Linked DNA regions of Homo sapiens. The protein of the gene in region 1 interacts with the protein of each later gene in a biochemical or structural test. Each region holds a gene or a part of one and is shown in the gene's direction. Other genes may lie near its edges.

Region 1 (7,040 bases):
TTGTAACAAGGGTTCAGAGCCCGCAAACCACCTCAGACCACTGAGAGGTCACCAGGTCACCCCAAAACAGCAAACCCTCAGTCAGGTTGAATTTACCAGAGCTTAGGGGCTCCAGGGGGAAGCACAGCTCGGTTTCTCAATGTCTGAATGTCTCCCCTGGTCAGATGAAGGATGGAGTGCCGGTGCCCCTGATCATTGCAGCCGGAGGTGGTGGCAGGGCCTACGGGGCCAAGACAGACACGTTCCACCCAGAGAGACTGGAGAATAACTCCTCGGTTCTAGGGCTAAACGGCAATTCCGGAGCCGCAGGTAAAGCGCTGCAAGCGTGCCCTCTCCCAGAACCTCTCCCAGGCCTTCAGCTGGGCCCCGATGCCATCGCATGCCTGAGGGCATCTTAGTCACTGGCACCTGGGATGCTAGGAGCTCTGAATATTGGTACCGATATCCAGGGAGGGAGGGCAGGCAGCACCCTGGGAGCCCTGCAGGCCATCTTGCTGACCTGGAGCTTGGACTTGTAGAAGGTCACTGAGAAAGTGAGGCAGGGAGCAGCCGTCAATCAGCCAGCTGGCCCTCCCTGCAATTGTTAGAGCCTCCCCCTGAGATTCCTTCTTCCTCCAGGGGCAGATGGGCCCCCCAGTTAGGATATGAGCAGGTGAAAAAAATCTGGGCAATGTCAGGCCTCCTAGACCCCCATGGTACAGACCTCCAGGCCCTGGGCTGCCAGACCCAAGCGTATCCCCGCTGGAAAATCTCTTACTTGACTCTCCACGGCTGAGCTCTCCTCCCTCATTAATGGGAGCCAGAAGCACAGAAATGTGAGACAGGCAGGGAAGAGAGTGTCAATTCCCTGATTCCTCTAAAGTCAGCCACCCCTAAAGACAGAAAATGCAATTCCTTTTTGTATTTTCTTTTCCACACAATCAGACTGTGGGAGGATCTTAGAAGGCATTTAAGATTTGGGATTAATTAAAACAAATGTGCAAACTGTCTCTCAATTGAGAGACGGCTAGAATAGAAGAGTAGAAACAGTCATGGGTCCACCCTGAGGATCTCCAGTGACGTTTGCAGCACCGAGGCCCAGCACCCGAGAAACCCTGAAGCACCTCTGCCTCTGTTGCACATGTGCTGTCAAAACAACCTGCAGGTTTCCAGGCAGATACCATTCCTGTTTTACAGGAGAGCCAATGGGCTCACCAAGGCATGATGACTTTTTTTTTCTCAACAGGGCCGAGCTGTTTAGTGATAGAGACAATTTTTGTTTTTTGTTTTTTGTTTTTGAGACGGAGTCTCGCTCTGTCACCAGGCTGGAGTGCAGTGGCACGGTCTCGGCTCATGCCACCTCTGACTTGCAGGTTCAAGCGATTCTCCTGCCTCAGCCTCCCGAGTAGCTGGGATTACAGGCACACGCCACCACGCCCAGCTAATTTTTGTATTTTTAGTAGAGACGTGGTTTCTCCATGTTGGTCAGGCTGGTCTCAATCTCCTGACCTCAGGTGACCCACCTGCCTCGGCCTCCCAAAGTGCTGGGATTACAGGCGTGAGCCACCACGCCTGGCCAGACTCAATTCGTATTTTTAAAACACCGTTGTTCTGATTTTGATATGGGTTATTTTCCTTTCCACACATTTGCTCGAAGGCTGCAGAACGGGTATGGGGGTCAGAAACCTCCTCAGCTGGGGGCTGAGCAGGATGAAAGCACAGCGCATGGTCTCCGTCCATCTCGTTCTGATTTATTTATTACGCGCTTACTCACAGCCGTGCACAAACACCAGCGCCAACTTCTGGCCCCTAACGCGCCTAAGGGGCCTTCTCTCTGCCACATGACAACAGCCTTGACAGGCCCACACCCTCCCCTGAGAGCAGAAGGGAGGACAGCGAAACAAACCCAAGCTCAACACCCACCCCTGGAGGTTTCATGGCTAACAAAGTCCCCCCAGCTTGCCTGATGGCCTCGCCTCAGCTCTGCTTGTCCCCATTCTAGATTCAAGCTTGTTCCTGACCTCAGCTTCATTTTCAAAACCTGGCTTCCTCTTTCTAGCAAGACAGTCATCCCACCTACAGGTCCCTCTGGGTCCCAAAGAATCTGGGCCACAAGTGCTTCCAGAAACCCTGCCAGGCCGGTTCACCCGTAGGGTTCCGGCAGACACACACACTGCTGTTTCTGCCTTCCACCATCAATTTCCAGGTCCCCAGCATGCATCATCTGCTGCAGCAGAAAGGGTTTTAGGGTTTTTAGAATACCTCCACCCTTTCCTATCCATCAGTTCTGCGTTCGTGGGATTCAACCAACCACAGATCAAAAATACTCAAAAAAAAAAAAAAAGATGATTGTGTCTTTACTGAACATGTACAGACTTATTCCCTAAATAATACAATAACTATTACATAGGATTTACCCTGTATTGGGTATTATATGTAATCTAGAGATGATTTTTTTATAGGAGAATGTGCAAATACTATGCCACTTTATATAAAGGGACATTTATTTTGGTGTGATGGAGGGATCCTGGAACCTCCACAGATACTGAGGGACAACTGTAGATGTCTATTCAAATGTCCTATGGAACAGTAGGCATAGGGGATATCCTGGAATCTCAAAGGTTAGCAGAAGAGATTTCTTGTGGTCAACCTGTGGCTACATTCAACCTCGGCTCTGTAGATAGCTTCCTTTGTAAGAGCCCAAAGCAGCCCCAGGCATTGGGAAGCACAGCCCTGAGGCTGCCTTTGTTGCCAGGGTATCGTCCACCCACCAGGGCTTCTGCTCCTGACCTTGGAGCAGTTCCTGAGCGCCTGGCCCTGGAGAACCTCTAAGCAGGCTGAGCCCAGGTGTGAGGCTGTCTGCACGCGTGTGTTCTGCCTCTCGAGCCCCTGACGCTCCCCACCCCTGGCAGTTTGTGGAGCATTTCGTACACTCACTGTCTCCTTTGAGCGGAACATCAACCCCATCAGGTGGGTCTTATTATCCCCAAGCCACAGGTGAGGAAACACAGGCTCAGAATGGGGCGTTCTTCCCCAGGGTTTCACAGACAGCAACGGGCTCTCTGGTCAGCCTAGTCCAGGATTCCTGCAAGGAACTTTAGTGCAAGGTTTTGACATGTGGCTGCTCAAAGACTGGTGAGTCCCTTTTCTCGTTAGGACGGGAGGCAGTTAATGAAACGAAGGTCCAGTGCTACGGGGCTTGGCTGACATGAAGAGAAGATAGAGGAACGAGTTTAGTCGCCATGCTGCCTGTCTGCCCACGTCCCCCCATCCTTAACCAAGCACAGCCCCTGCTTTTGAGCCAGAGAGTACTGGCAGGAAGCAGGGGTACAAGGCACGCTCTCATCTGGGTGTACTCAGCTGTGGCCAAACAGGTCTCCTAGGGCAAGCAGCCTCCTGGTTTTCCTAGTGTGGATCTGAAGCCCCCAGGCCCCACTGAAGATGGGCCCCGGGAGCTGGAGCTGGTGCGGGCGCCCTCCAAGGCGTCCTGCATCCTGCTTCTCTGGCCAGCATGGCTAATTGAACCTTGCCAGCATCCTCACGCAGGTTCCCTATCTCTTCCCGCAGGTGGTGGAGGTGGCTGGAATGATAACACTTCCTTGCTCTGGGCCGGAAAATCTTTGCAGGAGGGTGCCACCGGAGGACATTCCTGCCCCCAGGCCATGAAGAAGTGGGGGTGGGAGACAAGAGGGGGTTTCGGAGGGGGTGGAGGGGGGTGCTCCTCAGGTGGAGGAGGCGGAGGATATATAGGTAAAGATGATTCGTGTTCAAGGTGTCACTCCCTCCCTGCTTAGTCCTAGGCTCCTCACCTCCCTGCCCTGCCCTCCCCTGCCCTCCCCTGGCCTGCCCAAGTGTGGACTGTGATGTGACTGCACGCCTCCCTCTCGACCTGCCTGGACCAGCCAGAGGCAGGGTGCTGGCTTTCGAGCCAGCACCCTGCCTCCAGGCTTCCTCAGCGACAGCATCAAGATCCCATGTGATTCTTGATGTCCCCCAAAGTCGATGATAAAGAGGCTTTGGCTTGCCAGACTAGTCTCTGAGTCACCCATAAGGACTCCCCCAGCCTCCCTTGGATGGCCTGGCCAAGCCAGCTCCTGAAGGGGCTGGTTTGTGGTTTCATGGACTCCTTACTCCTGCTCCCTACCTCAGCCCACCAGCTTCCTGAAAGGCGCCGCTGTGCCTGCTGATGGGAGCTATTCCCGAGGGCAACTGCAGGCAGGCTTAGCCCAGCCCTTCAGCAAGCAGCTGCCCATTGACCCCAGCTGCCTCGTCTGGGCTTCAGAGCACAGTCAGCAGAGCCTTCTGAAGCTGAGAGGCTGGGAGACGATGGCTCCCCGCTCCCCACAGATTAGGACGAATGCATGCATGCTCTGTGGTGTTCGTGTCTGTGTTTTGCATTGACGCTGTGTGTAAGATGCTTGTGTTAACCACATGCTCTTCTTTTCCAAGCTGGGTGGGTGGGAGGAGCCCGAGGGGGGAGCCCAAAGATAGCCCAGCCCCAGATGAAAGGAGGGACGGGAGCCTCAGGGCACAGGGGCTCATTTCCCGCAATCCGCACAGCCCGCCACACCCCAACCCTGACCCAATGGGGCTGAAGAGCAACTCTTCAGTGCTACCATCCTGACCAGTCCTGGGAGAGGCACCATGGGCATATCCCAGCCTGGAAAGACTAGAACTTTTTGGACTCTTGCTCACATTAACCACTTCTTAGTGGGCCACCGGCAGAGTGGGAGCTGGCCTGGACCTGAGGGGAAATTAGCCACACACCCAGCATCTACTGAGCCAAATCCCACATGCAGCCTCTGTGCCCTGAGCCTCCCTTCCCTCCCCGCATCCCTGCCCCTGAGGTCCCCAGTGACCCCCTAACTTTGGCCAGAGCTGCATGCCCCACTGACGTGTGTGTGTGTTAAGATTTTGGCACCCACCCCCCATGTTAAACTCTGCTCTGGTTTGCTACTCAGGCGGCAATGCAGCCTCAAACAATGACCCCGAAATGGATGGGGAAGATGGGGTTTCCTTCATCAGTCCACTGGGCATCCTGTACACCCCAGCTTTAAAAGGTAGCTTCTCTGCCAGGCAGCAGAACAAACTTGCTTAGGTCAGTCCTCCCACCAAGCTAAAACCTCAGAGTCTCTGACCTGTATCCAGGATACAGAGGCACAATTATGGGTCCCTGGCAGGCAAGCTTCCTATGGCGCAGGTCACCACATTTTCCAGAAGTCAGGATGTGTGCTTTAATATGAATGCAGAGGCAGAATCCTAGGAAATGTAACAGTAATAGCCCAATACCTGCACCAGCCAACCTAAAGATCATGTGCGTGGGCTTCTCTCCACCACTGACTCAAAAGCAAACATCCATAGACACCCATGCCCGCTGCCTCCGCTGCACTCTCTATATGCACAGGAAGACTCTTCTACACAGTTGTGCTTCCAGTGGCTATGGGACCTAGGAACAGGGACCACCAGAGCACCCACAGTGACCACCTGGAGACATAGTACTGAGGCTGGGAGTGGGGAGGCAGGCTCGGCCCAAGACTGACCCTCCCTCCTTGTCACTAGTGATGGAAGGCCACGGGGAAGTGAATATTAAGCATTATCTAAACTGCAGTCACTGTGAGGTAGACGAATGTCACATGGACCCTGAAAGCCACAAGGTCATCTGCTTCTGTGACCACGGGACGGTGCTGGCTGAGGATGGCGTCTCCTGCATTGGTAAGGGGGCAGGGCCAGGGGAGGCAGAGGGGCCCATAGCCTGAGATTTGGCCCATGACCACAAATGGTTTCTGGGTTCCAGAACACCCTGGATTCGGTTTTGTAAACTTTCTGTCCCTCCCCTACCTGCCACAGCTCGAGTGCTCTGACCACTGTGTGAAAGGTGGGTCATGGCTCCTGAAGGAGTCTTAAAAATCCTCTACTATAGAATAAGCCCTCTACCACCCCCACCAAGGGGCCATCCTGCCTCCACTTAAACATGCCCAGTGACAGGGATCTTACTGCTCCTAAGGTTCTCTGTTCCCTTGGGCAGTTTCAGAGCTGGGGACCTGTTGCCTTAACCTTCCTCTCCTAGGTTTCCTTACAGCAGCAGCTGTGCATGTGCAGTGTTTGAAGACAGTGCTCCCATTCTCCTCCTCTTTTTTTTTTTTTTTTTTTTTTTTGAGGCGGAGTTTCACTGTTGTTGCCCAGGCTGGAATGCAATGGTGTGGTCTCGGCTCACTGCAACCTCCGCTTCCCAGGTTCAAACAATTCTTCTGCCTCAGCCTCCTGAGTAGCTGGGACTACAGGCGCCCACCACCATGCCAGGCTAATTTTCATATTTTCAGTAGAGACAGGGTTTCACCTTTTGGCCAGGCTGGTCTCAAACTCCTGACCTCAGGTGATTCACCCGCCTCGGCCTCCCAAAGTGCTGGGATTACAGGTGTGAGCCACCGCACCTGGCCCCATCCTCCTCCTTTAACTCTTCTTCAGACTAAATAACCCATTTGTTTGCAGCAGTTCATACAAGATGCAGTTTTGTGTCTCTTCCCCCGCCCCACCAGTGTCCCTCTTCTGCATGTGTTCCACTATCGATGTCCCTTTTGAAATGTAGTGTCCAGTACCAAGCACGATACCTCCGTGTGGTCTGGCCAGCAGAGGGCACAGGACCCCTCCCCACTGTGAGCCCAGTGCCTCAGGGCCACAAGGAAGTAACTTAGCCTCAGAGGGTGTTACTTACAGCGCACCCTGTTGTTTGGTCACCTGCGGCCCCCACATCTCTTCCAGATCCACTTTCGTTTCACCTTCCATCCTCACCCCATAGTTGTGCAGCTCATGTTTCAAACCAACATCCCGCCACTGATATTCATCCCTGTTAAATTTCCCTTCACCCAAAAGCTACTGCTAAAAGCCTGTCAAATCGGGATGAGTCTGGTCCTGCTCATGGTCCCCTGAAAAGAAAAGTGTGACAAGGTCTCCAGCGATGGGAAGGAGCAAGTAGTTTTTGTCTCAGTGGGGGAGGTTATTTCTGACTTGGGACCAACTCAAAGGAGACCTGGTGTGGTTGTCAATACCCCAGTGGGACCTGT
Region 2 (7,040 bases), on another chromosome or scaffold:
AGTGCTATAGAACACTAGCACTTCTTCCTCATATCTAGTTGTCATTTGAAGCTTACATTTTATTTTATTTCTTCTTCTTTTTTTTTTTTCTTTTGAGACGGAGTCTCGCTCTTGTCGCCCAGGCTGGAGTGCACGATCTCAGCTCACTGTAACCTCTGCCTCCTAGGTTCACGTGATTCCCCTGCCTCAGCCTCCTGAGTAGCTGGGATTACAGGTGTGTGCCACCATGCCCGGCTAATGTTTTTGTATTTTTAGTAGACACAGAGTTTCACCATGTTGACCAGGCTGGTCTTGAACTCCTGACCTCAGGCGATCCACCGGCCTCGGCCTCCCAAAGTGCCGAGATTACAGGCATAAGCCACTGCACCCGGCGTAAAGTTACATTTCAGACTTATGCCGTCCAACACCACATCCACAAGCCATGAGGCTACTGAGCACTTGACATGTGGCTGGTTCAAACTGAGATGTGCTGAATGTGCAAAATACACCCTGAATTTTGAAAACTTAGTGCAAAAAAGTAAAGTATCTCATTAGTAATTAATATTGTTGAAAACAAGTTGAAATGGTAACACTTTGGCTATACTTAGTTAAAATAAATTAATTTTAATTTTAATTTTAGAAATGAGGTCTCACTATGTTGCCTGGGCTGGTCTCAAACTCCTGGGCCCAAGCGATCCTCCAGCCTCATCCTCCCAAAGTGCTGGGATGACAGGCGTGAGCCGCTGTGACTGGCCAAATTATTAAATTAATTCACACATTTCTTTTTACTTTTTGAATGTGGCTACTAAACATTTAGAATTACATGTGTGGCTCCCATTTATCTCATTGTAGATGCTGCTCTCTTAGAACATTTTCCATCAGAGAGAAATCAACTAGTTTCATTGTTTGCGGGGAGTTTTCTTTTTACTTAGTTATTTATATTTATTTATTTATTTATTTTGAGATGGAATCTTGCTCTGTCACCCAGGCTGGAGTGCAGTGGTGCGATCTTGGCTCACTACAACCTCCACCTCACAGGTTCAATTGATTCTCCTCCCTCAGCCTTCCGAGTAGCTGGGATTTCTGGCACACGCTACCACGCTAGGCTAATTTTTTTGTATTTTTAATGGAGATGGGGTTTCGCCATGTTGGTCAGGCTGGTCTCGAACTCCTGACCTCAGGTGATCCACCTGCCTCAGCCTCCCAAAGTGTTGGAATTATGGGCGTGAGCCACCATGCCCGGCCTGGGGTAATTTTCTTATATTCAGTTGTTTATTTAATATTTTGTGGATCAAAAACTACTGCGTGCATCTAGTCACTAAATGCAAATTCATTTTCAATCAGTTTTTTATTGAAAAATTAATACAGATTTATATTCAAAAAAGTTAAAAGTAATAAAAAGGGTGTGCATGGAAAAATATCTCTTCTCTCCACCCCAGAATTCTGCTCCCTGGCGCCTCCCACCATTTTAATTTGTTTTTACTGCAAATAGGAGTGTGCTGCAGGGCAGGCATTGGCAAACTTTCTTTAGAAAGGGCCACATAGTCAATATTTTGGGCAGATAATCAGTGTGCAAAGAAAAGTCAGCACAGAGACAAAGGATCTCTCAGCAAGGCAATCTTTACTTTCTGCAGAAAGGGTGCCCCTCACAGATGGAACAATGGCAACAATACACCTGAACAAAGGAAAAGCAGACATATTTATCCCTTACGCATTTGGTTTGTCCTTACTGCTGTGTCCTGCATCCATTGGCTGGAGCTGGACCTCACAGTCTTAAACTGATACCCGATTTGCTAATAACCTAAAATTTCCCTAAATAGGTAAGTGCAAGGGAGAACCAAGAAGAAAAGGAAGTTGCTTATGAAAGGTTTAAGGAAGCAATAACATTTCCAAATAAGGAAGGGGCATAAGCTATGAGCTAAGACTTGCCTGGGCCTGTCCAGACATGCCTGAGTAAGCCAAAGCAACTAACTGGGCTAAAGTATGAGAACTAATAGTTGATAGGAGGCTTTGGAGTAAGGAGCTATTATTCCTAGCGTCTATTATTTTATTTTTAAAGCAAGACGAACTTTAATGAGGAACTTTTCTGCTTTCTACAGTGAGCCATAGTATCTGTGCAACAACTACTCAGTTCTGCCCTTGTAGTGAAAAAGCAGCCACTGGCGACCCCTAAACAAATGGATGTGGGCATGTTGCAGCAGAGCTTTATTCACAAACACAGGAGCAAGCTGGATCTGCCTCAGGAGCTGTTGTTTGCTAGCCCCTGCATAGGCCAGTGCTAGTCAATACAGTTACAGTCACGTGCCACAAAAGGACGTTTCTGTCATCTACAGACTGCATATACCATGGTGGTCCTATAAGATTATAATACTGTATTTTTACTATTCCTTTTCTATGTATAGATATGTTTAGATTCACAAATACTCACCATGGTGTTACAGCTACCTACAGTATTCAGCACAACAGGTTTTGTAGCCTAGGAGCAATAGGCTATACCATATAGCTGAGTGTGCAGGAGACTCTACCACCAAGGTTTATGTAAATGCACTCTATGATGCTCCCACAATGGAGGAATCTCCTAACGATGCATTTCTCAGAACATATTTCCATCATTAAACAGCACATGACTGTAAACCTTTTAACTTATCTGTCTGCATCTATTATTTGCCCTCTGTACTGTAAACCAAAAAGTATCTGAGACAGGTCTCAATCAATTTAGAAAGTTTATTTTGTCAAGGTTAAGGATGCACCCATGACACAGCCTCAGGTGGTCCTGCTGACATGTGCTTAAGGTGATTGGGGTATAGCTGGCTTTTATACATTTTAGGGAGACATGAGACATCAATCAATATGTGTAAGATGTACATTGGTTGGGTTCAGTAAGGTAAGACAAGTTGAAGGGGGATGGGGGAGGGGAAACGGGTTTGAGGGGAAAGGGGTGTGTGCAGGGAGGGAGGTGGGTGTGGGGGGGGTTCCAGGTCAAAAGTAGATAAGAGACAAAAGTTTGCATTCTTTTGAGTCTTTGATCAGCCTTCCACTGAGTACACAATTTAGTGTGGCTCAGTGAATCTGCATTTTTACATAAACAATAGGGCAGAGGAAGCAATCATATGCATTTGTGTCAGGTGAGCCTCAGAGGGATGACTTTGAGTTCTGTCTGTCCTCCATCCACAAAGAATTTTCTTGTGGGCAAATCGTGAGGGATGTATGTAGCTTTTTATCTTTGTAACTATCTTATTTAGGAATTAATGGGAGGCAGGTTTGCCTAACATAGTTCCCAGCTTGACTTTTCCCTTGGCTTAGTGATTTTGGGGTCCTGAGATTTATTTTCCTTTCACAATACTTAGGCATAATTGTTTTTTATTATTAAAAATAGTTTATGCTGGGTTTGGTGGCTCGTGCCTCTAATTCCAACACTTTGGGAGGCTGAGGTGGGAGGATCGCTTGAGCCCAGGTGGTGGAGGCTTCAGTGAGCTGTGATCACACCATTGCACCCCAGCCTGGGCAACAGAGCAAGACCCTGTCTCAAAAAAACAAAATTTATTTATTAAAAAATGTTTGAATGGTGTATATAATTTTGTTTATTTTTATTGTATGTCTTTAGAGTATGCAGCATAATTTTTGATATATGTATACAGAGTGCAGTGGTTACTGTGGTCAAGCAAATCATATCCATCATCTCACAGTTGCCCTTTTTTTTTGGTGGTGAGAACTCCTGAACTCTGCTCTCTTAGTCATTATCCCATATACAACACATCATTATTCCCTGCAGTCCTTCTGCCATGCATTAGACCTCTAGACTTGCTCATCCTACCCATCTGCAGCTTTGTATCCTTTGGCCAATTCTCCCCATTCCCTCCCTCCCTCAACGGTCTTTTGAAAATAGCTTAACCGTACCATTCCTTTGCCTAAAGCCTTTTGACTTCTCATCACCCACAGAATTAAGCACAAAGTTTGTGTACGACTTAACTCTAAAGCCTACCTGCACCTGCAGCCTTGTCTCACCCACCTCTTCTTCAGCAGCTCTGGACATTTCCCCCAATACTTGAACACGCTGCAGTCTTCCCCATTCCCATCTCTTCTTACCTTCTTATCTCTGGCTTGTTACTTCGGGTGTCAACTTAAACACCACTTTTCTGTTTCAGCTAAATCAATCTGTTGTACATTCTTGTATTCCTATGTGATGTTTGTGTTTTGAAGTTAAAATTCAAGTGTATTGAAATTCTGGTTTTCTTGGTGGGCTGTACTGAGTACAAGGAGGCACTGATGTTTCCATTTGAGCGGTAGCAACCCTCTTGGCTTCCTATTCCTTGAACATGTGCCAGGTGCCTCTGCCAGCAAAGCCGGGTTGTACAGGGGGACAAGACCGCATCCCTTTCCTCAGGAAGCCATAATTGTGGGGAAGACAGACACACACGGTGCCCCATCATGCTAACCAGAATGTGACATCTGCTTTGATAGAAGTTATAAAATGTGCTATGGGGTGGAGATGAGGAGGGTAATTTACTTAAAATATGTAATTTTCTACACACCTGAGTGTCATCATTGTCACAGGGTCTAGAGATTAAAATTATACTCTAAAATGCTTTTGGAAATAGAATTATTTATAAAGTCTTTGAGCATGCCTTAACCACAGTAGGTGCTTCTGCTGTACTCAGCTCATTCATTTTTCAGAAAGCACCAGTGTAACTACCTGGCCCAAATATTGACACCACAGAAGCCAATTTGTTGTTTTTGGTTTCTGAGAAGTACAGGGGAAAAGACCTATGTTCGGGCTGGAGCATTATTGAAGAGAAGAGGAAAGGTTTATATGAAGTACTTTCATTTTACTGCTGCTTTGTTTTTCAGGATTAGTTTTAATTGTTTGTAAAGTGCAGGTGTTCATTGTCAAATGGTGGGGGAGCTCCGATCTCTCTGCATTCCTGCGCACCCACACAATCACGCCCTGAACCAGGCCCTGAACTCACATAAGGCTGCCCTGAACTGGGGAGCTCCCTGCACAGGGAAGTGTTCCCACGTCCCTCAGGAGCTCATGGCATGTAAGGAACAGTTAGAATCCCTGCATCTGCATTTACCAAGCCTCAGTCACCACTGCCTTGTGCTGGCGAAGTCACACTCATCACCGTGATGGCTCAGACTCTCCTAGAGGGGGATGACAAACCTTCACTTCCCCATTATATTCTTAAAATGTTGTAAGTTTAAATGTATACCTACCAACAAACCTTGAGGCTCAACTATTTTACTAAAGTTTAAGTTTTCTCTTCCTTTGAAAGAGTTGCACATGCTCCCGATTGTTTGTATAAATTGCATTTTCTGGATGGTGTAGTTTTAGTGAGTAGAAGGTAAAGCCTGAGATACAATTTTATTTTTAAATTTTATTATGTATTAAGTGCAAAACCTTCCAAGTGGGAGAGATCATGACTTATAGTATATTTCTGTTTGTTTGTTCTGGCTACTGGGGAGAAAGAAGATTATGGGGAGGAGAAGAGGGGTTAGGAGGCCACTGCCAAGGCATGGTCACAAAAGGACGATGGCTTGGGCCAGACTCGTTGAGGGAAGGAGAAAGAAGTGAGTGGGTCTGGAATAATTTGTTGAAGGTGAAATACATAAAACTAACTCATGGTTTGGGTGTAGGGGTGAGGGAAAAAGGAAGTCAAGCATAACTTCTTGAGCTGGGGCCTGATCAAGAGTGATGCCACTTCAGTCAGTCTTCAGTGGACTGAGGAACACGGGAGAAACAGGTCTGGGCAGAGGAAAAGGAGACCTTCCATTGCGGCTGTGCACTTTTGAGAGATCTGTAAGGTACCCTTCATGCCGTAGAGCAAGCAGTGAGTTGTACTGCAGTTTTGGAGCCCAGGAAATGGTCAGGGCTGGAGAAACCAGTTTGGGATCAGCTAAATAAACTGTCACAAATCCATGTGTTTAGTGCCTTATTAAGTAATTAGCATATTAAGGATATTTTTAAATGGGAGAAATGCATTCAATAAATTCTGATGGTTTTTTTTTTCTTTTCAGAAATATTCCCAAGAGACTCTAACTTAAAAGACAAATTCATAAAGCATTTCACAGGTAAGTACAAAATGTATCAGTGATTCCATTAACTAAATAAAAAGACTGTGTGCAGAATACTATGTCAGGCACTAGGGATATGAAAATAAATGTCTGTAGGGGACTCATGGTCCAGTTGGGGAGATGGACGGATGCTACTAACTTGTGTTAACTGTAATGTAAACCAGCCCTTAATAAGTAATAGAAGTATGAGCCACTTTTTAAGGATACACAGGAAGTGAATAAAGTGGCCAAGAACTACCAAGAACGGCTTGTAGTAGACACAGTATTTAAGGTGGGCTTTAAGGGATGAATAAGGCTTTCCCGTGGTGAGGGAGACCTTCTGTTCAGAAGGAGTGCATTGAGTAAGCCATGAAGACACCGGGTGTGGTTTAGGCAAGGACAGGTGTGCACAGACTGTGAGTGGGCTTAGGTAGGGACGTATTTGGCCCTGGTCAAATATGTGGCTGGAAAGGTAGGTTGGAGTCATGTTGTGGATAATCTTAAGTGGCATGCTAGGGAATTCAGACTATGTTCCCCAACCAGGTGGGGGTAGGGAGGGAGGGGGCAATATAAATTTTTTGAACAGGGAGGGACAGACTTTCATATGCTACATCTTTTAAAAATATATTTATTTATTATTATTATTTTTTTCTGAGACAGAGTTTCGCTCTTGTTGCCCAGGCTGGAGCGCGGTGGCACGATCTCGGCTCACTGCCGAGTTCAAGCTATTCTCCTGCCTCAGCCTCCCAAATAGCTGGGATTACAGGCATGTGCCACCACACCTGGCTAATCTTTTGTATTTTTAGTAGAGATGGGGTTTCACCACATTCGCCAGGCTGGTCTCAAACTCCTGGCCTTAAGTGATCCACCTGCTTTGGCTTCCCAAAGTGCTGGGATTACAAGTGTGAGCCACCACGCCCGGCCAAAAATTTTTTATTTTTGAGACAGGGTCTGGCTCCATCACTCAGGCTGGAGTTCAGTGGTGAGATCATGGCTCACTGCAGCCTTGA
Region 3 (2,623 bases), on another chromosome or scaffold:
GGCTGAGGCAGGAGAATTGGGAGGTGGAGGTTGCAGTGAGCCGAGATCGCACTACTACACTCCAGCGTGGGCAACAGAGTGAGACTCCCTTTCAAAAAAAAAAAAAAAAGAAAAAAGTGTATACTATTTTTTCAACTCAGGTTTCTTTCAACTTTGTCACTCTATTAACTAAATTTCCCTCAGTCATTAGTAAGAGTTCAAACTTTTTCCTCCTGGAACTTATTGAAACATCCTCAAAGAGGATAGATTTTTAAAAAACTGTGAAAGTGGGCCGGGCGCAGTGGCTCACGCCTGTAATCCCAGCACTTTGGGAGGCCGAGGCAGGCAGATCATGAGGTCAGGAGATCAAGACCATCCTGGCCAACATGGTGAAACTCCATCTCTACTAAAAATACAAAAATTAGCTGGGCGTGGTGGCATATGCCTGTAATCCCAGCTACTCAGGAGGCTGAGGCAGGAGAATCGCTTGAACCAGGGAGTCAAGAGGTTGCAGTGAGCTGAAATGGCACCACAGCACTCCAGCCTGGCGACAGAGCGAGACCTGTCTCAAAAAAAAAAAAAAAAAAAAAAAAAACCTGTGAAAGCGTCATATGAGAAACTGGAGGTAACTGTGGATCATCTTGCTAGACATTCTTTGTACTCTCACTGAGACCCTTTCTGCGTGGAATACTTGCTCTTCATTGTGACTCTCAAAGGCAGACAGAACCAAGTGTTCTGATTCACCAAGAGCTTTTGTCTCCTAATGAATTACTTTGTCTCCCTTTACCACCATTTCTCAGAATCTCAGAGTACTTCATTGGCATGATCAGATGGCACTGCGATTCTTCCTATTATTAGCACTGCTGGCTAAAACATAAAAGCGGTGAAGACCAAGGCCAGAGCTTAAACTCATAGGGGTCATTCAACTCTGTTTTTATTAGTTGTCCTTGGTTTATACTGTTAACCTCAGCTAGGCATCACATTAAGTATAAGTACTTATTCACAATAAATAATGAACTAGGGCCAATTCAGCATCATGAATGAAAAACCAGTGCAGGCCGGGCGTGGTGGCTCACGCCTGTAATCCCAGCACTTTGGGAGGCCGAGGCAGGCGGATCACGAGGTCAGGAGATCAAGACCATCCTGGCTAACACGGTGAGACCCCCATCTCTACTAAAAATACAAAAAATTAGCCAGGAGTGGTGGCGGGTGCCTGTAGTCCCAGCTACTGGGTGAGGCAGGAGAATGGCGTGAACCCGGGAGGCAGAGCTTGCAGTGAGCCGAGATTGCGCCACTGCACTCCAGCCTGGGTGACAGAGTGAGACTCCGTCTCAAAAAAAAAAAAAAAAAGAAAAACCAGTGCAAAACATGTGCTGTACTAACGGCAAGTCAGAAGTGTCATCCTCAAGTACAAAGATGAGGACAGATACAGATGCCTGAAGGGAGGATATGAGCCGTGTCTTAGAGGCTCAGAGTGTGTTAACAGGAGTCTGACAGTAGAACGTTGGCCCCTCGATCTTTAGTCTGACTTTAGGTATACATTATGTATAGCATACTACAAAATGAATTTTTACTTAGTCCTAGACATATCCAGATCATTGTGGGACAAATGATCTATCCTTTGTCTCTATAAAAGAACGTAATCACTAATAATAAGCTTTTCTACCTACAGAGTCTCTCTGAGAAATCAAGGAAAGTATTCCGAATATTTCGGCAGTGGGAATCTCTGTGCTCATGCTGAAGATACTCCAGCGCCTTCCTGGAGATAGCTGGAATGAGAGTGACTTTTTGAAAAATTAAGGCTGAGTTCCTTTCGGTCAGCTGACACTAAGTTTTTCCTGTTCTGGGTTAATCATAAGGAGCCCCCTGCCATAGCAAAGGCAGTGAGTGTCAACTATCTGCATCTGGCTGAGAGAGACCCGTTTCCTTTCAGGGATGTGGACAGGGTAAGGGCAGCAAGCATGGTTCTGTTAAAGGAGTGTGGGATTAACAGACTAGAAGGAAGACTAAGGACCTGACCACCCATTTCAGCATCTTCAATGTGGAGCAGTGTTCTGAGGACTCTTCTATCCTAGGACTATGACAGTGTGTATTAATAAAATATTTGCTAAGATTCTCATTGTTGGAGAACTGTTTTCCCCCTTGCCCTGTGGGCCGGAGAAACTTCAGTGGAACATTCAACTTTTGATTTTCAGATTGGCTGCAAAGCCTAAAATTTGTGATTCCAGTCAAGGAGGTATAATCTTTCCTAAACCAAAAGCAAGATGATTTTCATTATGCCACCAGGAAATTTCCTGGTGTGTTATAGTGAATGGTCAACTGATAATTTTCTCCTTGCTTTGATAATAACAGAATAAAACAATGTAATGGGGAGGAAGGCACTTCAGAAGAGACCCCTCTCCATGTGCCATTGAATGCATGAGTCCCCCAGTTGGGCTTCCCCAAGACTCGTTGCTTTTGGGGGATCATCAGTTTTTGTGGTAGAGAAGGTGGACCCTGAACTGCCCACTGATAAAGTAACCATGACCTAGCAAAGGCTAGAAAGTGATTATTCTCTGATATGCCATGTTTTTCGTCACTGAGATTGTTTTGTTTTATACTTTTGTACTGAAGTATTTTAAAGAAAATAACACATAATATTTTA

What was found. Proteins that work in one complex are often made in the same cells at the same time.
Region 2: the proteins of ALK (region 1) and ALKAL1 form a complex in vitro, tested with the Homo sapiens proteins (one study listed by IntAct).
Region 3: the proteins of ALK (region 1) and ZC3HC1 form a complex in vitro, tested with the Homo sapiens proteins (one study listed by BioGRID).

The regions. Positions count from the first base shown.
Region 1 is NC_000002.12:29,225,573-29,232,612, reverse strand, and holds part of ALK (ALK tyrosine kinase receptor isoform 1 precursor), read left to right. Parts: intron 1-164; coding exon 165-309; intron 310-3,546; coding exon 3,547-3,729; intron 3,730-4,940; coding exon 4,941-5,039; intron 5,040-5,538; coding exon 5,539-5,691; intron 5,692-7,040. UniProt on the Homo sapiens protein: Neuronal receptor tyrosine kinase that is essentially and transiently expressed in specific regions of the central and peripheral nervous systems and plays an important role in the genesis and differentiation of the nervous system.
Region 2 is NC_000008.11:52,541,400-52,548,439, reverse strand, and holds part of ALKAL1 (ALK and LTK ligand 1 precursor), read left to right. Parts: intron 1-5,994; coding exon 5,995-6,048; intron 6,049-7,040. UniProt on the Homo sapiens protein: Cytokine that acts as a physiological ligand for receptor tyrosine kinase LTK, leading to its activation. Monomeric ALKAL1 binds to LTK, leading to LTK homodimerization and activation.
Region 3 is NC_000007.14:130,017,761-130,020,383, reverse strand, and holds the end of ZC3HC1 (zinc finger C3HC-type protein 1), read left to right. Parts: intron 1-1,651; coding exon 1,652-1,720; 3' UTR 1,721-2,092; downstream 2,093-2,623. UniProt on the Homo sapiens protein: Required for proper positioning of a substantial amount of TPR at the nuclear basket (NB) through interaction with TPR.